Homo sapiens: one gene and its partners. The protein of the gene in region 1 interacts with the protein of each later gene in a pairwise test. Each region holds a gene or a part of one and is shown in the gene's direction. Other genes may lie near its edges.

The links.
Region 2: the proteins of MAPK9 (region 1) and BNIP5 interact in binary tests that used the Homo sapiens proteins (3 or more experiments, as listed by UniProt).
Region 3: the proteins of MAPK9 (region 1) and DUSP16 interact in binary tests that used the Homo sapiens proteins (3 or more experiments, as listed by UniProt).
Region 4: the proteins of MAPK9 (region 1) and DUSP4 interact in binary tests that used the Homo sapiens proteins (3 or more experiments, as listed by UniProt).
Region 5: the proteins of MAPK9 (region 1) and PPARG interact in binary tests that used the Homo sapiens proteins (3 or more experiments, as listed by UniProt).
Region 6: the proteins of MAPK9 (region 1) and MLIP interact in binary tests that used the Homo sapiens proteins (3 or more experiments, as listed by UniProt).
Region 7: the proteins of MAPK9 (region 1) and SHMT1 interact in binary tests that used the Homo sapiens proteins (3 or more experiments, as listed by UniProt).

The regions. Positions count from the first base shown.
Region 1 is NC_000005.10:180,250,584-180,254,083, reverse strand, and holds part of MAPK9 (mitogen-activated protein kinase 9), read left to right. Parts: intron 1-3,500. UniProt on the Homo sapiens protein: Serine/threonine-protein kinase involved in various processes such as cell proliferation, differentiation, migration, transformation and programmed cell death.
Region 2 is NC_000006.12:36,323,389-36,326,888, reverse strand, and holds part of BNIP5 (protein BNIP5), read left to right. Parts: intron 1-135; coding exon 136-379; intron 380-1,474; coding exon 1,475-1,606; intron 1,607-2,698; coding exon 2,699-2,760; intron 2,761-3,355; coding exon 3,356-3,500.
Region 3 is NC_000012.12:12,556,364-12,559,863, reverse strand, and holds part of DUSP16 (dual specificity protein phosphatase 16), read left to right. Parts: intron 1-3,500. UniProt on the Homo sapiens protein: Dual specificity protein phosphatase involved in the inactivation of MAP kinases. Dephosphorylates MAPK10 bound to ARRB2.
Region 4 is NC_000008.11:29,337,185-29,340,684, reverse strand, and holds part of DUSP4 (dual specificity protein phosphatase 4), read left to right. Parts: intron 1-441; coding exon 442-587; intron 588-2,183; coding exon 2,184-2,403; intron 2,404-3,273; coding exon 3,274-3,500. UniProt on the Homo sapiens protein: Regulates mitogenic signal transduction by dephosphorylating both Thr and Tyr residues on MAP kinases ERK1 and ERK2.
Region 5 is NC_000003.12:12,411,070-12,414,569, forward strand, and holds part of PPARG (peroxisome proliferator-activated receptor gamma), read left to right. Parts: intron 1-3,500. UniProt on the Homo sapiens protein: Nuclear receptor that binds peroxisome proliferators such as hypolipidemic drugs and fatty acids.
Region 6 is NC_000006.12:54,124,943-54,128,442, forward strand, and holds part of MLIP (muscular LMNA-interacting protein), read left to right. Parts: intron 1-3,500. UniProt on the Homo sapiens protein: Required for myoblast differentiation into myotubes, possibly acting as a transcriptional regulator of the myogenic program. Required for cardiac adaptation to stress through integrated regulation of the AKT/mTOR pathways and FOXO1.
Region 7 is NC_000017.11:18,353,551-18,357,050, reverse strand, and holds part of SHMT1 (serine hydroxymethyltransferase, cytosolic), read left to right. Parts: intron 1-1,050; 5' UTR 1,051-1,069; coding exon 1,070-1,165; intron 1,166-3,233; coding exon 3,234-3,379; intron 3,380-3,500. UniProt on the Homo sapiens protein: Interconversion of serine and glycine.

The DNA.
Region 1 (3,500 bases):
GAGGCAGGAGAATTTCTTGAACCCAGGAAGCGGAGGTTGCAGTGAGCTGAGATAGTGCCATTGCACTCCAGCCTGAGCAACAAGATCGAGACTTCGTCTCAAAAAAAAAAAAAAAAAAAAGAGATTGAAGCATTAAAGGCTGACTGGAAGTACTGAGTGAATGGGTAAATTGTTAAAGAATGGGTGTCTCTTGGACCACAGGCAGCCACAGGTGTCACCTTCTGTAGGTTTTTTCTCTGGGCACCATTTAATTTCTCTGGAAAAGGCCCCTTCAGTCCCTTGGTGGAGGGATGTAAGCCTGGCTGCTGGGGTACAGGGCTGTGCTTCTCATGTGGCAGAGCGCAAACTCACCAGGCAGCCCTGTTGCAGGCAGGCCTCACCGTGCCTTCCCTGTTGGTACCCACAGGACTGTGCATGCGGCGCCTGTGGCCCTGCACCTGGAAGCTGGGCATCAGTTTCTCTGCGTGAAGGGCCAGCAGGAGTGAGGAAGGAGTGGAGCCTCACTTCTGGGATGGAGATGGGGATCTGGGACATCTACTACGTACTTGGACTTTCAATAAAATGAAAACTTCTCCAAGTGCTACCCTTGCCTCTTCTGCCTCCATAGCACCTGCATTTCACTTGCTGAGCCTTTCCTGGGTGTCGTGGCCATTTATAGAGGTTGGCATTTCCTTCGCTCAGCTAGGGCATTTGGGCGGCCCTGCAGCTTCCTGTCCCTGTAGCGTGGGGCTTTTCGTGGGCGGCTTCCGCATGCCACGGTGGGTTAGACAGGCGAGGGACTGGCCGGGAGGAGGCCTGTGCGAGAAGGAAGGGGGAGCAGCCAGAGGAGGCAGCAAATGCTAGCTGAACGTAGTGCAGTCCTGGCCCCTCAGAGGCCTGGTCCAGACTGCGGTGCAGCTCTGAGGGCCTCCGGTGTCACACAGGAACGGGCCTGCCTCAGCATCCCTGCCCGGTCGGCCCCTGGCTGACGGCTCTGTGGGAGGTGTGCCCTGGCAGGGACAGAGGGTAGGTGCAGACACCACACTGGGCCATCTGTCACTCTCACTCCTGTGGCGGGAGACCAAGGAGTGCATTTCCGTGGACCCCACAGTCCACCCTGGCCCCCTCAGCTCTACTTCTCCACATAAGTTGGGAATGGCTTTCCTGTGGCGCCCATGGTTCTCTCTTCCTCAGGGGAAATCTGGAAGACAGAGGTTAGTGGGACACCCTGTAGTCCCTGTCACTGTGGTCTCTCTGCTGGCTCTTTCCCTACCCTTTCCTGTTATTCATACCCTCAGCTCTCACATTGGCAGGCCTCTGTGGCTTGCCTGGCCTGTGTCCCAGGCCTTCATTCCTGAGCCGTCTGTGTCTGGTGGCTCTCAGTGGGCCACAGGGTCCCAGGCCACCCAGTGGCCGTCTCCCCAGTCCTCAGTGTGTAGCCGGAGCGGAGGCGCTTGGCAGGTGGAGTAACGCCCACACGAGTTCCTTGGCCTGTGAGTAAGAGTCGTCACAGTGGGAAGGCCAAATGGAAACCTGAAACTGCCCCCAAGATAGTAAATCAAAAACAAGATCACACCCTGCAGGGCCCGGGGTGGGTGGAGGAGACTAGGGCCACCATGGAAGCCTCAGGGGAGCAGAGACAGTGGTATCTTGCATCCCAGTCTAACTCGTTAGTCCAGCCCTTGAAGAAGCTGCATGGATTCTGGAGAATGACCCCAGACGGCCACAGGCTTACGGCACTGGCAGTCCTGGCCGCAGCTGCTGTGCATGTCAAGGTGCAGTTGTTGCTGGAGCAGATTAATAAGGCCTCAGGTCTGGCATGTTGATGGGGCAAATGCATCCTCCACACTGATTAGAAGAGAGGCCCAGACAGCGCCCACACTGCTGCAGGCTGGACAGCAATGTTCTCTCACAGCCTTGCTCTAAGCCTTTGCTAACGTTCCCACCCTCCCATAACATGGCCGCAAGAGACCTGGCCCAGACTTCACTTATGCCCTGACCCCTGACCCCTGACCCCACGAACCCTGCAAGTGGAGGAGCCCTGAGAGTGTTTGGGGTCTTCGGGTTTCAGTGTCTACTTAGAGCTGTGTCCATTCATCCTCAAGAGTGCCTGGCTGTTCTTACCCGGTGGGTGGCCACAGGTACCTGTGGGGAAGGACCGGCAAGGCCAGACAGTGGACACCTGTCATGATGTGCTCCTTCCTGGGATACCTCTCAAGCAGTGGGTCTGGATCCCAGAGTTGAGCGGGCAGTGGGGGAGGTCAGCACCTGCCCCACTCATGCTGCGGGTGCTGTGGGTACCCTCACTGCTGCCCACAGGGTAGCGTTGGGTTCCAGGCATTTTGGGAGCCAAGCCCCGATCCAGGCGTCACTTGGATCTGTACTTGGCATTTGTCTTCTTTGTTCTGAGTGATTTTCAAGACTTGAAGGGGCAGAACTGTCTTTCCTCTGCTGTCTTGAAATTGAAGTGAGGTGTTGGGAAGCTGCCTCAGGTTGTATTTCGGGGGTGACTAGAGAGGGTCCCAGGGTGCGGGGAGAGCACCTCCTTAGCCACCTCCCCATTGGCCACACAGAGCACCCACACAAGCTTGGGACTTTATCACCACAGTCTTCCAGCAGACGGCAGTAAAGTGTGCTTTTCCTGTTAAATTAGTATGTGATGACAGTTTTTTGACAGATGGCAGTGTCTTCAGATGAGCGTGTTTCTGGCGCACTGGGGTTCACAGAGCTGGCAGGCAGCCCGTGGAGATGGTTCCACTGCTGCGTCTGTCCTTGGTAGAACCAGGCTGTCCTTGTCTTCCTTGCTCCTGCGGCCGTGCTGTTAGTTCTGGGTGGGCTGGGCTTCAGGGCCTGCTGGCTGGGGAAGTGTGTGCATTTCACACCTCAGAAATCAGCCTCCTGGAGAGAAAGTGCCCACTGCACACCCTCTGTGGCCTGAGGAAGCGCCTGTTTCTGCTTCTCCCGCCAGCACCGAGTCTGCTTGCTTTCCATCGCTGCCAAGTGATAGACTAAAAATGGGCATTCATTTTGGGTTTTTAAAGAAGATTTTTGTGAGATTGAGCATTATTTTATCTGTTAGTAATTTATGTTCTAAAATGCCTGTTCTTGTCATACTCTTTGATTTTAAAAAAGGAAACAAGAAGCGAATTCGTTCATTTGGTCTTAGCTCCCTGACTTGGTCCTCACAGCGGAGCGTCCCTGGTTGAATGTGGGCTGCTTCTCCCTGGCTTTCCTTCATGCAGGGAGGCAGCCCGGTTTCTTCCTCTCAGGCCTTTCTGGGAACCGGGGGTGTCTGCACAGTACTCTAAGGTGGAATGGAGGGGCTGGGGGCCTCTTTTTGGGGCCAGGTAGAGATTGTGACTGCATTTTTAAACATTATATGTTTATCATTTAAATCTTACAGAATCTAGGAAGCCTAGAAACAGGTCACTTAGCAGCATGGCAGTGTAATTGTACCTGTTGTCAATGTCGAAATGGCTTCCTGCTTGCCCTGATGACAGCCCCACAGCCTTCACTGAGGC
Region 2 (3,500 bases), on another chromosome or scaffold:
TCCCCCTGCTCTGGGCTCTGCTGCCTCCCCTCTCTCGGGGCCATCTTGCAGCTTGGCTGCTCTTCACTTGCCTCCAGAGAGCTTTCCCCCTCTCAGTGTCATGAACCTGACCAGTTTTTCTCCTCTCCCCAACAGCAATCTCTGGCCTCACAGCTGGGGGTGGCCCTGCCAAACCCAGCACCAGCTGTTAGGAAGAAATCCCAAGAGAAAAAGACAAGCCTCAAGAGAACCTCAAAGACAAACCCCAAGAAACACGGCTCCGAGGAGGCCAAGAGGGGGGCTGCAGATGTTTCCAGTCCAGAGGCCTGGCCACCCAAGAAGTCCAGCTTTCTGCCCCTGTGTGTCAGCGGCCATCGGCCTTCCATCTCCAGCAGCTATGGTGAGCAGGCTCTGCAGTTGCCATAGCAACCCTGCAGCTGCCTCCAGCTCTGGAACCTTCCCTGGGGATGGAATTGACCATTTTAAAGGTTGCGTTGTGCCTGGTCTGACTTTTGCACTCTGCCCTGAGTGGTGTGAGGATGACTGTGGGAAGACAGAAAGAATGCCAGCAGGTCACCTCCACACACAACACCTCAGCGAGCTCTAGGCAACCCCAATAAGCCCTTGATGGAAATTATGTTCCGGGATTTCCCAACCGTCAACATTTCTTGGCCGCCTCAACTTCTGCACCCTGGCAGGGAGGGGAGTAGTGTGTGCAAGAAGGAGCTGGAGCAGGGGAGGCAGGAGACCTGGGTTCTAGCATATTGTCTATGTCATTCCCCATCTTTGTGCCTCAATTTCTTCACCTGTAAAGTGAGACATTTCCCTGCTGCATATCTATAACACGATCAGTCCTCACAGCCATCAGATGAAGTGCAACTATTATCCCCACAGCCATCACATGGAGTACAACTATTATCCCCACCTTACAGATGAAGGACCTGAGGCTTTGGGAGGTAAAACAATGTGTTCAAGGCCACATGGCCCATGGATGATGGGGCCAGAGCTAGAGGCGGAAAGGATCAGACAAGTCATTTCTTCCTGGGCATCAGGGAGAACAGGTCATCCTGTTAGGTCATCCTGGCCAGGAGAATTTACATCTTAGAAAGGAGGGAGTGACGCTTAACACCAAAGAGGGGAATTTCAGGCCCATGGGGAGATATTTTCATGCAGGGGGATTCTGGCTATGATTCATTAATTCATGCCATGGGACCAGGCCTCTACTCTTCAACTTGTGGATCAAGTCAAAATGGTGGAGGGAGGAGAGGGCAGCAAAGCCCAGGAAAGCCAGTTCTATGGAAGCACAAAGGGATAAGGGAACTCGGTCTGGGCCAGTAAATCAGAGGCACAGCCCTGCCCAGCAGCTGTCTTCCAGCCCCATAAGTCCTTAATGTGATCCAGCCACGGAGCCCACTTTTAGTTTGTGCTAGCTTCTGTGCATAGTTAACAGCCCCAGACAGACAAAACACACCCTCGTTCTCCTTCTGCTTCTCAGGCTTGGAAGAACCTAAAGTCCAGGAGGCCCCATCTACAGAGGCTGGGGCTCCAGGTCCCTCCGTGCTTCCCACCCCATCAGAGAGCCAGGAACCTGGAGAGGAGCTTCCGCTGGACAGAGCCTCGGAATACAGTCAGTACTCCTCTCTTTTTCTCAGACACCCCTTGCAAAACTTCTGTTCTGACTCCCCCACTTGCAAAGAGACACTGAGCCAGAGAGAGGCAGTGACCTGTCCAGACCTCCCTCTGAGTACAGCAGGCTGGGGAGGCAGCTTGGGGCCCAGAGCCCAGGCCCAAGCCAGGCTGCCTGTCTGAACCTCGATAAATGGCGATAGTGTTGGTGCTTACCCTGATGAGGCAGACAGGAGGCAAAGGGAGGAAAGTGCTGGCCCACACCAAGGGCTCGGCCAATGGGGTGATCTTATGGACCTTGGTTTGAGTCTGGGCTGTGACCCCTTTGAGCTGTGTGGACTTGGGCAAGTTACTTCATCTCTGGTCTCAGTTTCTTCATCTGTGAAATGGGGGCAGCAAGTACCTGCTTTCTAGAATTGTCGGCAGCATTTAGGGCAGCCCCTGTTAGTGGCTAATATGTGTTAGGTGCCATTTGTTGCTATTATTGTCATTGTTGGGTGGCCCAGCTTGAGAGCAGAGCTCAGAAGTAAAAAGGATAGGGACAGGGGTAGGGGCCTTGGGAGGGAAGCTCAGCTAATGGCAGCTGCCATCGCTGTAATTATTATTTTACCATTGGCAGAGCCAGGCCTAGAAACATATATATATATATATATATATATATATATATATATATATATATATATATATATATATATATATATATATATAATATCACCGTCAGGTCTGAAAAGACCTGGAAAGATCTCTGCCCCCTATCCCCTGCCATTCTGCCTTGTTTGCTTTTCATAGAAAATATGCCTTGAAGGGAAATTCTGCCTGGACAGGGAGAAGGTGCAGGATGAGGGCACCTGTAGGGAATGGGCCTTTCCAGATGGCCCTGAGGGGCCTCCTCCTGGGTGTCTATTTAGAGGCCGTCATTGGTAAAGTGAATATGTATCCCATGAAACCAGCTCTGCCCTCAGGCCACCTCTGGCAGCTCTTTAGCCCCCTTGGAGAATCACCCAGGGAGCCACCGGGGCATTAGGAAATGAAGACTGACCGCAGAAGAGATTTCGTAGCACCAAAGTTAACCATGCGTGTTGATCTTTTTCAGAAGAATTCATTCAGAAGATCATTTCCATGCTCCAAGATGCAGAAGAACAGCAAGGAGAGGAGGTGAGGAAGACGCTCCCCATGTAACCCTGACCTCACTGTGGGCTCCCCAACCCTGCCTGGTGTAACAACTTCCCTGTCTCTGCTGCTCTTCTGTGTCCTGCTCCAGTCCCTCCTTTTTTTTTTTTTTTGGAGACGGAGTCTTGCTCTGTCGCCCAGGCTAAAGCACAGTGGCTCGATCATGGCCCACTACAACCTCCACCTCCTGGGCTCCAGCGATTCTCCTGCCTCAGCCTCCTGAGTAGCTGGGACTACAGGCATGCGCCACCACACCCGGCTAATTTTTGTATTTTCAGTAGAGACAGGGTTTTACCATATTGGCCAGGCTGGTCTCGAACTCCTGACCCCTGGTGATCCACCTGCCTCAGCCTCCCAAAGTACTTGGATTATAGGTGTAAGCCACTGCACCCGGACCCAGTCCCTCCTTCTTGAAGCTTCCCCAGCCCCCTCCAGACCACACATATTTCCCCAGCACTGAGCATCAACCACTCTTCTCTGGGCAACGCCTGCTAGCCCACCGTGGCTCTCTTTCCCCACCTCACCTGAGATCTCCTCAAGGTCAGGGGCCCTGACTCAGTTTCTCTCATCTCCCCCACAGCAACCTCAAGTCCAGCAGGAAGAGGTGGGTGTAGAAAACCCGGCCCCACACTGCAGAAGGAAATCTCAAGAAAAAAGGTCGAGCTTCAGGAGAGCGTTTTACCATAAGAAACACACCTCCAAGGAACCCAGAAGAGCGGGGGCAG
Region 3 (3,500 bases), on another chromosome or scaffold:
AGGGGGGAAGAGTAGGTGTGAGAAGGTTGCAGAGTTTAGGTAGGGATCAGAATAAGAGGCAGGATTTATGTGTTAGTGTGTTTTGATGCTATTTTCTGTAAATCCCTGGACTGGGAATTTAATTTCATACAGTGTTTAGCATATGGGATTAATATATTGATGAAGCAGACTTATATAGCTGTCCAGTATTAAATTTTTTCAATTTTCAGCTAATCCTAAAAATCCTACTAAATATAATTTGCTAGAATTACCAGTGTAATAATTTATCCTAGAACTCCCAAGTTTTCCTAGACAAAAATAATTTTCTACTTCGTGTTACCTGAACTAAAAATTTCACTGGACATTCAGTGTTTTTAAAATGCATTAAGTTCTCAAGCAAAAGGTACTTTAATTTGAAGAAGTAAATTAATATAGGGTGAACTGATTTGGATCAGAATCCCAAGAAAATAAGGAGATAACTTAGAGGAAATAAAACAGATTTTATGACAGATTTCAACAGATGAAAGAAACTAGTTAAAAAGATTTCACAGGAAAAACCATAGTTGGTGCTTGATTGGCTTTAAAAGAAATTTACTGATCATTTAAAACGGAGATATTCACCATCATAAAAGAAAATCCGAATGTTGGCTTAAACAAAAACATAATTAGGAAAATAAGTCTTGCCCAAAGCTACATATGATAAATTCCAAAGCCAGATGTCAATTTTTTTTTTCTGATTTTCTTGTGTTGTAGACAATCTGTTATTTGTATGCATTTCATTATCCTTGATGATCAAGGGTTGGCTGTGTGAAGAGAGGTTCATAAAGGTTGGCCGAATTTAAAGAAGCAGGCTCAGGCTTTAAGAAGAGCTGGTTCTTCTACACAAATGGATTGAGACAGGGAGTTAGAATTTTAATCAAATAAATAACTGGAGGAAACAGTGGCTCAAAAGAAGGATGTAAGACAGATTACCTTGGACAGGTACAAAGAAATAATAAAAGCTTGCCAGGAGTATGATCAGTAAGGAAGGGAACAGAATACATCTTGCCATGAAAGGAAAGAGGAATAAGTGGAAAAATGCCCTCTGATACCTCAGCAACAAGAGAGAGGAATGAAACTTCACGCCCTTCTTGACTGGGGTTAGAAACATCATTATAGGTATTGCCACAAAGTCACAAGATTTTTTTATTACATTAAAAAATGTAGGCCAGGCGTGGTGGCTCATTCCTATAATCCCAGCACTTTAAGAGGCTAAGGCAGGAGGATCACTTGAGCTCAGGTGTTGAGAACAGCCCTGGCAACAAAGACCTTGTTTCCACAGAAAATCAAAAAATTAGCTAGGTATGGTAGTAGTACGCAGCTGTGGTGCCGGCTACTTTGGAGGCTGAAGTGGGAGGATCTCTTGAGCCTGGGAGGTCAAGGCTGCAGTGAGCTATGATGGCACTGCTGCGCTCCAGCTTGGGCAACAGAGCAAGACAGTGTATCAAAAAAAAAAAAACATATAATCTTGAGGGATAGTGATTGATAGGGTAAATTATGAGCATTACTTATATGAGAATGTAAAATTTAAAATTGTCAGAAATAAAAAGAGGGATTCGCTGTAATATCATGGCCTATTTTGAGTTATTTGAAAGGGAGGGATACATTATAAACTGAAATTATTAACTGAATTTCTGGATTAACTACTGATAGGAATCAAGCAAAACATTTGTTAGCAGTATGCTGTTTACATGTGCTGAGATGGATTCCAAAAGTTGGGGACACTGGCCCATGTTATGGAGAACAGGATTATAAGAATTTTAAGGGAGATACATACATATGCAAAGATAATTACCAGACAGCTGGCAAGTGCCAAATTCAGGTACAAAAGAGAAAGAGGGCTCAGGGAGGTAATCTTCATAGAGATAATAGAATTTGACCCTGGCCTTAAAGATTGGTTAACATGTGTATGGAGAGAGGGAAGTGGGGGAGGCGAAAGGCGGAAGGTATTCACCCATCTCATTCAGCAAATTTATGCTGATCCTCTACCAAGTGCTAGACCCTGGCCATACAGTGGAAAATAAGAGAAAGTTTTTGCCCTTACGTAACTTATATTCTAGTGGGAGAAGACAGGACAATAAACAAAGACAGTAAACAAGTAAACAGTACATTAAAAAAGTGATGTTAAATAGTGGTCGGTAGTAAAGGTAATGATCAGGGTCGATAAATTGCACTTATTCTGTGAATCACTTGCTTTGCCTATGATAGTCTAATGAACAGTCTTCATGTTATAACTTTTTAATATTCATGTGCAGTCCAAATGAATTTGAATAAAAATCTACACATTAACCAGTTTTTAAAAAAAGAAATGGGAATTAAAGAAAAAGAAACCTATGTGACTTTTTTTTAGGTCAAAGCATGGAAACTTAGATTTTTTTTTTTTTTTTTTTGAGACGGAGTCTTGCTCTGTCGCCAGGCTGGAGTGCAGTGGCGCCATCTCGGCTTTCTGCAGCCTCCGCCTCCCGGGTTCAAGCGATTCCCCTTCCTCAGCCTCCCGAGTAGCTGGGACTACAGGCGTGTGCCACCGCACCCAGCTAATTTTTTTTTGTATTTTAGTAGAGACGGGGTTTCACCACGTTGGCCAGGATGGTCTCGATCTCCTGACCTCGTGTTCCACCCGCCTTGGCCTCCCAAAGTGCTGGGATTACAGGTGTGAGCCACCACACCCGGCCAGAAACTTTAAATTTTTTTTTTAATGCCTTGTTAATGTATCCACAGTTCTTTTGCTGCCATTTGCTAAGAATCTCATGTTTTTTTACAATGAGATTAATGTCATTGTTTACTGTTCAGTTAGCTTTTTCACGTATTGGGCTATATTCTTAGGTTAGACTCTCTGTTAGGAACAATAATCACCATAGTGTCATAAAGTGAAGCTAAATTCCAAAGATTGTTTTGTATGGGAACATACAAAAGAAAAGATGTACAGACAATAAACTGTTAGGCTTAATTACCAATAGGTAAAATAGGGTAAGGGATGACACCTGTTCAACTCTTGTCCCTATGGCATATTGTTCCTGTATTACTACAAAAAGTAAAAACCTGAAGCAAAGATGTTCCAAAATGGGGAAGTCTTGATCTTTCCTGTAGTTATTGGACTGCCAGGTTTGTTTTGTTATTGTTTAGAAGATGTCCTTCATAGTGGTCAACTAAAAACTGATATTATCAGGAGCTATTTCATGTTTTGGGGCACATTTTGTTCTTCTGAAGCATTCTTTAAGAAATATGTGCCCTTCACTCTTTTTGCAGTTTTTAATTTTTTTTTTTTTAATTAAAGATGGGGTCTGTCTCTGTCACACAGGCTGAAGTGCAATAGAGCAATCATAGCTCACTGTAGTCTCAAACTCCTGGGCTCAAGCAGTCCTCCTGCCTCAGCCTCCCAAGTAGCTGAGACCACAGGTGGTGCATGCCACCACACCCGGCTAATTATTATTATTTATTTTTATTATTTTTATAGAGATGGGGGTCTCACTTTGTTGCCCAGG
Region 4 (3,500 bases), on another chromosome or scaffold:
CTTCTTTCTCACATTGGAGAACCTCCCCTGAGGAAGGGCTGGAATCAGGGGTGGCAGGTGTCTCTACAGGTACTTAGTGTCCTTGGAAGCCCAGCGTGACCTTTGCTTCTCTATTTTGTCATTGTCCTGAGGAGCTACTCCACAGTCACTTCTGCACATCCCCCTGCACGTCTTCCTTTGTATGTCTACCTCTCTAACCCAAGTCTTGTCCATAAAGCTTATCCTTCCAGCTTTGCTGCAGTCCTGACGAGTGTGTCCTCTGCATCTCTGGAAACCACTCCATGGCCATTCTCTAGGTCCACAGCGCCACCTAGTGGCCAATATGGAGCACGCCAGCCCCTGCCTTCCTAGCAGTCCGCCTGAGTCTGTAGGAGTCGAGTTCTTTCTGACTTCCTGCTGGCTTAGTGACCCCATTAACCTGAGCTTCTTTCTCCTTTACAGGCGGCTATGAGAGGTTTTCCTCCGAGTACCCAGAATTCTGTTCTAAAACCAAGGCCCTGGCAGCCATCCCACCCCCGGTTCCCCCCAGTGCCACAGAGCCCTTGGACCTGGGCTGCAGCTCCTGTGGGACCCCACTACACGACCAGGTAGACTCGGGGGGCAGGGCTTGGAAGTGGGGGGCAGGAACAGCGTAGGGGCCAGTGGATGCCTTCTTTTCAGAGTTCTGACGGTGTTTTTTGTCTTTGCTTTTGAGACAGTCTTGCTCTGTCACCCAGGAGTGCAGTGGTGTGATCATAGCTTACTGCAGCCTCGAACTCCTGGGCTCAAGGGATCCTCCCTGGTAGCTGGGACTACAGGTGGCACTACCATGCCTGGCTAATTTTAAAAGGTTTTTGGTAGAGATGGGGGGGGGGGGTCTTGCTATGTTGCCCAGGCTGGTCTTGAACTCCTGGCCTCAAGTGATCCTCCTGCTTTGGCCTCCCAAAGTGTTGGGATCACAGGCGTGAGCCACTGCATCCAATCCTGAGATTTTTTTAAGTCTTTGAATGTTATGCCTCAATTTGGGGAGAATGCGGTGAACCCGGAGTATTGGGGTGGGATGTTAGGTAGGACCTATTTACTTCTTGGAAATCTTCCCCTTCCCTCTCTAAATATCCTCCTAAGAAAAAAGTCTAAAGACATGACTCCCTGGCTTGGCCTCTAACGTCGTGTCCGGACAAGTGAGGAGGCCTCCAGAAGCCCTGGGGGACCTGCTCTCTGGGAAGCTGAGGTCATTCTCCTCTGAAGTAGCAGGCCATGAAATACATCTCAGTCCCCGACAGGCAGGCTGCTCCCACGTATCAGCCGAATGAACATAGATGGTCACCCACCCTCCCTCCAAGAAAACCTGCTTGAGCCACTGTGTTTCTTATAAGCCCACCCTCCAGCCCTTTCAGTTAGATGGACTCTGCTGCCCACATCTCATGTGCTAAATTTAAGCCACTGTTGCCTCATTTTGCCAAGATCCTCTCTCTTGTCTGTGTGGCCATGAGGGCATCAGCTTATTTATTTGTTTATTTTTAGAGACAGAGTCTCACTCTGTTACCCAGGCTTGAGTCCTGTGGCGCAATCATAGCTCACTGCAGCTTCAAAGTCCTGGGCTCAAATGATCCTCCCATTTCAGCCTCCCAAGCAACTGAGACTACAGGTGTGCACCATCATGCCAGCTTCATTGTTTGAGAGATGAGGTCTCACTGTGTTGCCCATGCTGGTCTTGGAACTCCTGGCTCACATGATCCTGCCACCTCAGCCTCCTAAAGTGCTGAGATTACAGGTGTGAGCCACTGCACACCTGTTTTTGATATGCCCAGTGAATACATATCAAAACAAATAAGTATCTAAACCACACAGCAAATGGCTTGATGATTAGCAGATATAAACTCAGTGTCACAGATGGTGCCATAAGGCCGGCATTGTCCTGCCGCTTATTTTGCCATGGGGGAGGTGCAGGAGAGTCCCACAAGACTTTACCTGCCCTGGCCTCTCTGCTCACAAGTAGAGGGCAAAGGCTGGAGAAGTCCCACTGGGCCTATCACCCCTCCAAGAGTTCCAGGAGGCTACAGGGGGAGGCTGGGAGGGCCAGGCCCAGCAGGCATTCTCCCTGGGTTTGGAAAGGAAAGCTCTTCTCAGACAAGCTTCCACTCCCTGTGCCAAGCACTTTACCCTCATGTCATTCAGGGGCCTTTGTTTCCCTTTCTGTGCAGGGGGGTCCTGTGGAGATCCTTCCCTTCCTCTACCTCGGCAGTGCCTACCATGCTGCCCGGAGAGACATGCTGGACGCCCTGGGCATCACGGCTCTGTTGAATGTCTCCTCGGACTGCCCAAACCACTTTGAAGGACACTATCAGTACAAGTGCATCCCAGTGGAAGATAACCACAAGGCCGACATCAGCTCCTGGTTCATGGAAGCCATAGAGTACATCGGTAGGCTGGCCCTGCTCTGGGGTTCCTGGGTTTGAGGGCGGGTGGGAAGGATAAGGAACCCCTGTAAGCCTGGGTTGAAGGTGGACATTGGAGGCACTGAATCCAAGGGTCCCCATTCCCCCTCTTCCTCATTGGGAAGGCTTATACATTGGATGTTGGGTTGGGAGGGAGGAGGGAAGATGGACCTACACACAGGCTTAGCTTGCAGAGCCAGTCCCCTTCCCCTTGCATGGCTTCAGTGCCTAGATGGTAAGAGTTTTTGGACGGGGAGGAAGACACAAGGAGCATTGAGTCATAGTTTTTATTTTATTTCTATTTATTTATTTATTTTGAGACAGAGCCTTGCTCTGTTGCCCAGGCTGGAGTGCAGTGGCGCCATCTCAGCTCACTGCAACCTCCGCTTCTGGGGTGCAAGTGATTCTCCTGCCTCAGCCTCTGGAGTAGCTGGGACTACAAGTGCACCACCACGCCCAGCTAATTTTTGTATTTTTGTAGAGACAGTTTCATCATATTGCCCAGGCTAGTCTTGAACTCCTGAGCTCAAGTTATCCACCCTCCTTGGCCTCCCAAAGCGCTGGGATTACAGGAGTGAGCCACCACCCTGGACCCCACTGTTTTGTTTCTGCAAAGGGAAATCCTTGAACAGATAATAGGATTTAACCAGCTTCAGCATAGTGATTCGGGAAAATAGACCTCAGAATTGGGGGCATTCTAGAGACCTGCCTACATGGGTTTTCTTCCTCTCCAGTCCTTGGTCTAGCACGGCTAGTCCTTCCTTCAGAGCCCCCCGACCCCAGGGGCTGGCCGGTGCCCCTGGTCGGGGCTGGGGTCTGCAGAAACGTGCACTAACCTATTGAACCCTGTCCCCAGATGCCGTGAAGGACTGCCGTGGGCGCGTGCTGGTGCACTGCCAGGCGGGCATCTCGCGGTCGGCCACCATCTGCCTGGCCTACCTGATGATGAAGAAACGGGTGAGGCTGGAGGAGGCCTTCGAGTTCGTTAAGCAGCGCCGCAGCATCATCTCGCCCAACTTCAGCTTCATGGGGCAGCTGCTGCAGTTCGAGTCCCAGGTGCTGGCCACGTCCTGTGCTGCGGAG
Region 5 (3,500 bases), on another chromosome or scaffold:
AATAAAATAAATTCTTCTATTGCCAGGACTGTCAGGAATAGCTAAAGATGTAAAAGATCTAAACCAGTGTGTTCTTTCAGAGAATAAGTTAAAAATAATATTTTATAGAGTTAAAAAGAAAAGCACTTGGATTTTTTTTTTCCAATGGCTGGACTCAGTTGGCCAATACCCTTGTTTGCCTGCTGAGTAACTCTTTGGCTGGCAATTGATTTTTTTAAGAGCTGTGGTTATGTGCTAGTTCATTAGCATGTGAATAATTCTTCATATTAAGTTTTCATTTGTTTGTCGTAAATCTCTAAACCCTGCAGGAAAGCAGAATATCTTTGACAGCTTTCAAACTTCACTTCTATCACACACAGCACTCCACCAGCACCTCTAGGAAACAGTGGTTCAAAAGGCCCTGCCCCAAGACCCCAGCATGTTAAGAGCGTTAGTTTAAAATCTCCAGTTCATCCTAGAACAATCATTTTAAAAGGAAAAAAAGAAGTGGGGAAGTCCTATAGAAAGCAATGGAAAGGGAAAAGTTCTCAACCCAGAATCGGGGCTTAGGTTCTAGTTCCTGGTTTGCTATAAATGGCACTTTGACTTTGGAATGTCTCTGGCTTCCGTTTATCCATTAGTCAGAGAATGATGGGACAGATTACTTCTGAAGACCCCTTATGTCCTATAAATCTCATAGTTCTCAACAAGAGGGAAACGGGAACAACAGGGGCAGAAACCAACGAGAGGCTGAGGAAACCAAACCAATGAGTTTTGGATTGTAGCTAACCGAGGAGAACCAGGTGTGTCAAAGGTGATGAAAGTCAGATGTGTAAAAAGCAAGAAGGAAACAAAATGAAGAACATGAGCCCTAAGAATTCAGTGTCTTTCCCTGGTAAAACTAAGAACATCAGGAAAGCCACACTCGATGAGGCACACATTTTTCCAAGCCAGTTTTCACTCTGACAGGGTTACCTCAAGTGATTGTTTGAGAGAGGGTAGAGGGGTTGACTACACTCATTCAATCTGCCAAATTAGAAAAGTCACCCAGAATACCCTGTGCTTTTTGAGTGATTTTCATGTTTATCTCCCGTAGCTTGCTATTTTGTTATTCAAAAGGAGTGTAAACTTAGGGCATTCATGTATAATACCTTTCATAACTCATGTTAAAATGCTGATGTTATTGGATTTCTCAGGAACACTACTGTTCTATTTCTCCATTCAAAAAGGTAAAAAAAAAATTAATTACTCTATTTTCATCATTAATCCCATTTCCCCCATTGTCTTTGTATTCTACATAGGAAGCATGCCATAGATCTATAATTGAATTTACTCATCTATATAAAACAGTACTTTTAATCCCATCCTGAAAATCAAAATATATTTTTGAAAATCAAAATATGTCAAAATTGAAAATCAAAATGTCAAAATATTGAAAATTGAAATATATCAAAATTAATTATATTTGATGTATCCCTCAAAAAATTGATTTCTCCTTACAGAAATCATTTTGCTTTCCTGGAAAAACACTGGGTTCAAGTGCAGCTTTCTTCATTCCGTTCTGGTCTGTCCAGTATATGAAAAGCACAAGCACACAATGACCAGTGACAGATTCACCATGAAGCTAATGAAGCTTCATGGGGCCCTTCCCTTGTGCAGAAGTCCTTCCAGTGCTTGGGGAAGGGCCGAAGCAATTTTATTCTCATAATTTGTAATATTTTCCTTAGAGAGACTCCACTACTGTGTATATTTTATGCCCCACAAAACCTGAATTCACCCCATCATGTCCCATTTGTAATTAAGCTTTCTTTCCTGTTAAGGAGGGACGCTTACCCAGCCCTTTGATGTACGGTCTGAAGATAAATACACTGTTAGCCCCCAACTAGAAGTGTAAAATCATTAAGACAAAATTTGAGAATGATACGGCTCCTATAATGGCAATCTTTGGATGATACTGTCCAAGCTGATGGAAAGTGTAAGGACTCCACTTTGCTTTGTAAAAAATACAAAAAAACAGCCATGGAAGTGCAGTACATTTTGTATGGAACATTGTACCACATTGTACCAAATGTCATGTTAAATTAATGATTCAAGATAAAATGCAGACCAAATTTGACCAGGGTTTTAAGAGGTTCTCTCTCCATAAAGCAGGCTGGCCACGATCTTCTCACTAGGTTTGAGGGTAAGGAGGTCCCCTGTGAAATATGAAAGTGAACTCTCTGCTATCTAAGAATTGGTGAATTGGTTGCAAAGAAAGGCAGACCAGGCCCACCCAGGGATCACTCTTGCAGTTTGACAGATCTACCTGGAGGCTGAAAGAATCTATGCAGCCTTCGGAAATGCAGTGAAAACAGTATAATCAGATATGACTAGGGAAAAAATAAAACAACTGGTGTTCATTTGCATGTCAACACCCAGAATTCTCTGCTAGTTCACCTCTTCTTCAGAATGCAGAAAGGATTGAAAAAGCTGGAATGGGGCCGGGCATGGTGGCTCATGCCTGTAATCCCATCACTTTGTGAGGCAGAGGTGGGTGGATCACCTGAGGCCAGGAGTTCAAGACCAGCCTGGCCAACATGGTGAAACCCCGTCTATACTAAAAAATAAAAAAATTTAAAAAAAATTGCCGGGCGTGGTGGTGGGTGCCTGTAATCCCAGCTACTCTGGAGGCTGAGGAGAATCACTTGAACCCAGGAGGTGGAGGTTGCAGTGAGCCTAGATTGCGCCATTGCACTCCAGCCTGGGCAACAGGAGCAAAACTCCATCTCAAAAAAAAAAAAAAAAAAAAATGAAATGGTTTGGCATGATGGTGGGGTGCTGATTCCTCTCTCTGTCCTTGAGTATTTACTGCCAGGAAATCCTGACCAACATCAATTGCCAAGGGGTTAAAGTCACATTGTTGTTAAATTGGGAGAGAAAATTAGCAGGATTTTGTGCCCTATGTTCAACTATTACAGAGTTTCAAAAACAGGAACCTGGAGCTTTATATGAGGGGACAGGGGAAGTAAAGGGGAAGAGTGACAAGGGTGATTTATCAGGGCATAGTTCCAGATAAATCACTTACATGGAGGTGAAAGAATTTCATGCATATGTTCTGTGCCAAGAAGCCAAATGGTTGAGCAGAAGCTCTGAAAGTTGAAGTGGGCAGTTCTGGGTACAGTCTTTCCACATGTGAAAAGGTGATGATTTTATATTCATGTTATTTGTACTCCTGCATGTGCAGTTGGTCTTTTCAGGTGTCCAGATCATCATTTTCTCATGACATGAAAGAAAGCCAATAAAGGCTAGTTGTGGTGGCTCACACCTGTAATCCTAGCACGCACTTAGGGAGGCCAAAGCAGGACGATCACTTGAGCCCAGGAGTTCAAGACCAGCCCAGGCAACATACATAGCAAGACCTCATCTCAAAAAATGAAATAATTTTTTTTTAGAAAAAGAAAGTAAATATTTCATTAATATAAATTATAATACACTGTAAAATGCCTGGAGGACAAGAAACACGTTTTCTCTAGGTTCTGTGA
Region 6 (3,500 bases), on another chromosome or scaffold:
CCATCCTGTTTAAGGCAGACAAAACTTTCAAAGAAAAATATATTTAAAAAACCATTATCTCAGGGTAATAAATCATCATAGTGTAAACACAGATAATAAATATATAAGATAAAAAGGATTAAGCAATTATGCTGTGAATTGGCTGAAGAGAAAATGTAAAACATTTAGCTGGAGTAAATTTGGGAGAATACTACCTCTTTCCTTTAAATAATTCTTGGAGAAGGTTGATATGAGGAGTTTCTTTAGTCAAGAAGAGTGTGCTTGGTGAGCTGGGTCCATCAAGAAGCATATTTCAGACGTAAGAAAGATCTAGTGAAAAGACGGTAATTGGACATTAGAGGTAGACCCATTGATTTTAAATTAGTAAAAGACTAGTAAAAGGATAAACTAGGAAATAAGAGTAAGAAAAATAATTTTCCCCTGTGTATCCTAAGGAAAACATCTTTTGTGGTCCTGGAAGCCACAAGGCTGGGGTTGACCTCAGTGAGAGGGGGAAAATATACCACCCCAAAACTTAGTGGCAAGATTGAATGGTTCTTTTAAGGTAGAGAGAGTCTGGTACAATAGGAGAAGACCCACATCTGTGATGGCAGGAAAGAAAGGATGCGGACAAGGAGGCATTTTGAAGTTGAAAAATAGAATAATTTGCCATTGACTGGCTATTTGCTATAATGAAAATGTAAGGTGACTGACGAAGTGTAGTTAGAATGTTAGGAATGCAGACGCTGGCTTTGAGAGTAGGTAGGTAGTGGATGCAGAGCTCTAACTTCTTGACAATGACCACGAATTGTTACCCAGATGTCCCATTTAGGATCTAATAGACCAGGCATTTGCAATCAACCCAAAGTAGTTTAAAGGACATTTTTACTGGCGTGTTGGTCTTTTTGCATTACTAGGACAGGACCAATGCAAAATGGTAGAATGAGCATTGGAGTTTTGGTGCCACACCATCTTTATTTCTGTAGGCTTCACTGAGTTTCTGATGCTGCATTTTTATTATCTTCAAGCATCTAGTATCTTGTATTGTCTTCTGGTAGTAAAAGACACACACTGCGGTACTCACATTTTTACTGGGCTAAAACATTTATTTCTTCTTGAAGTTCGTTCTTAGCTAGGTATTGGAACAAAATATTATAATCATATAATTAAATGTATTCCCAATATGCTGTGATAGGTTTAAATATTTCTTTCTTGCCTCAGAAAAGATAATGAAATAGTTGGAGATGTAGAAATGTGGAAATTTCCATTGTTAGGGGAGGACAGCTTTAGGTGACTTCTCTGAGAAGAAAATGTATTAATAAAAAATTAACAAAGCAATTGTTGGGTCTTTGATTTACTCTTTCTCCAACTGATAGTTTTTTCCCCTGAATTGGCCATTTATTTTTATTTTTGTGTGTTCAAATATACAGAAGTGAATCTAGAGACTGAATATGTCCTTTAAAATATTTTTTCCAAAAAAGGTTATTTAGGAGCAGGTTATAGTTCATGTTATTAGAGCTCTAAATAAAAAAGCAGAGCTCAACCTCATATATTAATTGTGGCTGAAGATTATGATTACCAGTAGTGGTGGAATACTAGATCCTAAAGTGTTTGACCAATTACCAATTATTTGAACAATTACCATTGCTCTTGTTTCCATTTCCTATAATAATCCACTTGAGTGAACTGTAGGTCATCATGAAATAAAAATAAGATGACCATTGCCACAAGTGTAAACTAAGGAGAAATGACCAGAGCACCAAAGAAAGCAGTCTGGAAGTTTAATATAGTGAACTGTAATGTACAAAGTCTAAAAAAAAATTACACGATTGGGCTGCTTGATGCCAACAATATCAAATTTTTAATCAGAAATACAGTCAAGTAAGTAAATTTCTAGTCTACCTGGTGAAAATGAATCCATATATAGAATTGTCTGTAAATTACCTCTATTGGTTAGTCATTGATAAGCTATTCCTAAGAAATGTCTTCACTTCTTAGTCTGGCCTTTAACCTTTCCATGACCTAGCCTAGGTGTCTTTTTCTATCTACATCTTTTACCTCTCTTCTTCAGCTCTCCTGAACAATCACCAAAGTACATACTTCATACCTTCCCATCTCTGAGCCCTTGATTCCTCTGGTCAAATGCTTCCTTCTTTCCCTAGCTCTTCTCCATTTTGACCTAGGCTACTTGATAATTTAAGCTCAGTTCAAGTAGCATCTCCTCTTAAAGATGTTCCCTTTGGAAAGGAGTTAGTTCTTGTTCATGTTTGTGATTTTCTTTATTATTTTATAGCTTTTAGTGGGGGAAAAAATTCTCCATTATAATTCCTTTTCATTCTGTTGTAATAATTTACTTTTATCTTTTTTCCTCACTGGCTGAAAACTACATTAAATCAAGTTCTGGTCCCTTGTTAATTTCTGTATCCCTAGCACTTAATGCAGTGCCTTACATATAAAGGGGGTTCAATAAGGTGAGTGAAAAAAATGAAATATTCAAAAGATTGCATATCTTTTCAACTGTGAAGTCCTTGCTCAGATATTGACACCTTCATGAAGCTGTTTTGTTCTCTCAGTGAAAGCAATCTCTCTCCCAACATTATTCTGATAGCTTTTTTTCTGTACCTATTTTATAATTATCATAGGCAGTACTATAGCTATTTAGATACATGTCTTATCTCCCCTAAGAGATTGTAAAGTTTTTACAGGTAAAGCCCATGTTAAATTCAGTTTTATTAAACTTTTTGTCCCCTACAGTGGTTAGCATATTATCAGGGACATAGTCAATATAAATATTGGGTTGAATGATAAACTCCCCAAGTGCTTCCTGAAGTGGCATGTTTAAGTAAAAGTATCTTACGTTAAAAAAATCACTCAATAATTTCAAAGCATGTCAAAAGTAAACATGTTATGTAAAATAAGCTGTTGAATCAAAATCCTCTTAAATAAAATTCAGAAAAAAGAGACTTGAATGTTCATGTAAAAGTCTAAGAATTTTCTAGGGGTAGTATTAGAGTTACGGGAGAGGTGAATACACATACAACACAGTGATTCGTCTGAAAGACCTATGATAAAGTTTGGAGCTAAGATAGTGACTGTGGGAATAGACAGAGAGCCTGATGAGGTAGAATTAGCTGAACTTGTTCATTGACAATATATGGGAAAAATTAAGCATGAATGAAGTTTATTACCTCATTGGATGAATGTTGGCATCATTAATTGAAGAATGAATAACAGGTCTTGGGTGGGGATGGGAAGAGATTAGACATCTGATGTTGAGTTTGAGATGCCTTGGTGGCACTATATGATGATATCTAGAAAGAAGTTGGAAGTATGAATCCTGGACATAGGAGAGAGAAGGGAGACTGGAGATATTCGTCATATAAATTAAAGTGATGGGAATTTACTCAGGGAGAGAAGGTAAAAGTAGGAAGACAGGATTCAAGCCAGGAAACAGAAAAGTATAAAAGCACCTATGAAAAAAGAGAGCCAATGAGAAACCTAGGTGTCTTTTTCTATCTAAG
Region 7 (3,500 bases), on another chromosome or scaffold:
CTCGGCCTCCCAAAGTGCTGGGATTGCAGGCGTGAGCCACCGTGCCCGGCCGGAAAATATTCTTCATGTATAGCAGTGTTGGGTACCGCAGGAGATTTTTTAAAAAGTAGCACTCAGTCCTTACCTTCAAGGAACTTAGTTTAGTTGTGGGAGATAAGCTATATCCATGAGAAGTTTGGCTGAGAGGAGGCGGAGTTGGGCTCCCTGCAGGTGGGGAGGAGGGTCAGTTCTCATTTCTGAGGGAGATGAGCTGACGTCTGCAGTTTGGAAAGGAACCAGAAGTTCCACATGGTGGTTTTGCAATAGAACATGCTCGTGTTTACCAAGCAATTCTGAGGGAAAGGCTAAAAAAAGTGTTAGTTTATCAACTTGATAGAACTAACAGGTTTCGATGAGCTTTGATTCAATATAATGCTGCGGCCAGGCATGGTGGCTCACGCCTGTAATCCCAGCACTTTGGGAGGCCGAGGCAGGCGGATCACTTGAGAGGAGTTCAAGACCAGCCTGACCAACGTGATAAAACTCCATCTCTACGAAAAATACACAAATTAGCCAGGCGTAGTGGCGCACGCCTGTAGTCCCAGCTACTCAGGAGGCTGAGGCAGGAGAATCACTTGAACCCAGGAGGCGGAGGTTGCAGTGAGCCAAGATCACGCCATTGCCTGGGTGACAGAGTGAGAGTCTTGTCTCAAAAAAATAAAAATAAATAGGTGGGGCGCGGTGGCTGACACCTGTAATCCCAGCACTTTGGGAAGCCAACGTGGGCGGATGACAAGGTCAGGAGATTGAGACCATCCTGGCTAACACAGTGAAACCTCGTCTCTACTAAAAATACAAAAAATTAGCCGGGCATGGTGGCATGCGCCTGTAGTCAGAAGATTGAGGCAGGAGAATCTCTTGAACCTGGGAGACGGAGGTTGCAGTGAGCCGAGATCATGCCACTGCACTCTAGCCTGGGCAACAAAGACTACATCTCAAAAATAAATAAAAAATAAATAAAATAAATAAATTTAATTCTGGAAGCTACACATGTTTTTCCCATTTTTTTAGGCAGCTTCGAACCAGTGCAATGACGATGCCAGTCAACGGGGCCCACAAGGATGCTGACCTGTGGTCCTCACATGACAAGATGCTGGCACAACCCCTCAAAGACAGTGATGTTGAGGTGAGATTTTTGGGGTCTTCACAGATTTTTTTATGTTGGAGGCCTTCATTTAATCTTTAGTTCTAATTACAAATTAATTAGGGACAGCCTTGAAATGAGTATTATCCTGCTGGATTTAGAGGTGGTGGCAGACAAAATGGCTACAAATCCTTTGAGGGTAAATTTAAAGATTGCTGGGTTTCTTCAAAGTGTGGAGCACTGTGCAGGGTGCTCTGGAGAAAAGCGAGAAGGGGAGAGATCACTGACAGTTGACCCTTTCCTGACAGTTCACAGGGAATATAGATCTATCTAGACATCTGAAAGCACCTTTATTTTATTTTATTTTACTTGTTTATTTATTTTTTTGAGACAGAGTTTCACTCTTGTTGCCCAGGCTGGAGTGCAATGGCGTGATCTTGGCTCACTGCAACCTCCACCTCCTGGGTTCAAGGGATTCTCCAGCCTCAGCCTCCTGACTAGCTGGGATTGCAGGCACCCACCACCATGCCCGGCTAATTTTTTTTTTTTTTTTTTTTTGAGACAGAGTCTTGCTCTGTCGCCCAGGCTGGAGTGCAGTGGCGTGATCTCAGCTCACTGCAAGTTCCACCTCCTGGGTTCATGCCATTCTCCTGCCTCAGCCTCCTGAGTAGCTGGGACTACAGGTGCCTGCCACCACACCCGGCTAATTTTTTGTATTTTTTAGTAGAGGTGGGGTTTCACCATGTTAGCCAGGATGGTCTCGATCTCCTGACCTCGTGATCCGCCCACCTCAGCCTCCCAAAGTGCTGGGATTACAGGCGTGAGCCACCGCACCCGGCCTTTTTTTTTTTTTTTTTTTTTTTTTTTTTTTTTTTTTGAGATATAGTCTTGCTCTGTTGCTCAGGCTGGAGTGCAGTGACGCGATCTCAGCTCACTGCAAGCTCCATCTCCCGGGTTCACGCCATTCTCCTGCCTTAGCCTCCCGAGTAGCTGGGACTACAGGTGCCAGCCACCACGCCCTGGCTAATTTTTTGTATTATTTTTTTTTTTTTAGTAGAGACGGGATTTCACTGTGTTAGCCAGGATGATCTTGATCTCCTGACCTCGTGATCCACCTGTCTCGGCCTCCCAAAGTGCTGGGATTACAGGCGTGAGCCACCACGCCCGGCCTAAAGCATCTTTTCTTTTAAGGAAGAAGAACAAGGAATAAGGTTCAGGGAGGGAGAAACTTGGTGAAATGTAGGAATAAAAATAACAGGATGGTGGTGTTAAAAATTAGGTGGGACACTTAAAGATAACTTTCTCTTCAATCATTTTGTTTTTCTTTTTCTGAGATGAAGTCTCGCTCTTGTTTCCCAGGCTGGAGTGCGATGGCGCGATCTCGGCTCACTGAATCCTCCACCTCCCAGGTTCAAGCGATTCTCCTGCCTCGGCCCCCCGAGTAGCTGAGATTATAGGCGCCTGCCACCACACCCATCTAAGTTTTGTTTTTTTGTTTGTTTGTTTTTGAGACAGAGTTTTGTTCTTGTCGCCCAGGCTGGAGTGCAATGGCGTGATCTCGGCTCACTGCAACCTCCGCCTCCCGGGTTCAAGTGATTCTCCTGCCTCAGCCTCCCGAGTAGCTGGGATTACAGGCATGTGCCACCATGCCCGGCTAATTTTGTATTTTTTAGTAGAGACGAGGGTTTCTCCATGTTAGTCAGGCTGGTCTCGAACCCCCGACCTCAGGTGATCTGCCCATCTCGGCCTCCCAAAGTGCTGGGATTACAGGCGTGAGCCACCACGCCCAGCCAAGTTTTGTATTTTTAGTAGAGATGGAGTTTCACCATATTGGCCAGGCTGGTCTAGAACTCCTGACCTCAGGTGATCCACCAGCCTCGGCCTCCCAAAGTGCTGGGATTACAGTCGTGAGCCACCGCACCTGGCTATCATTTTGTTTTTGTTAATTCATTGATTAGTGCTTTCTCAGATACTAAAACCTTTGAGGAGGATTCATTCTATTCCATAATGTGAAAGAGTGTCTTTTCTCTTTAGGAGGTTGTAATTTGGATCAGAGCAAAATTTTAAACTAAAATTTCCAAATATCAAGCATCTGTTTTCTTCTCATAAGGTTTACAACATCATTAAGAAGGAGAGTAACCGGCAGAGGGTTGGATTGGAGCTGATTGCCTCGGAGAATTTCGCCAGCCGAGCAGTTTTGGAGGCCCTAGGCTCTTGCTTAAATAACAAATACTCTGAGGGGTACCCGGGCCAGAGGTATGTGAATATCTTCAAAGGCCTGGTTCTGACACAGTCATAGGGAGTACTCAGTCAGCCTAGGACCTAAACAATTTGGAAATTTCAGAAAACAATAAGCTTCCCAGCTGTAGGATTTCTG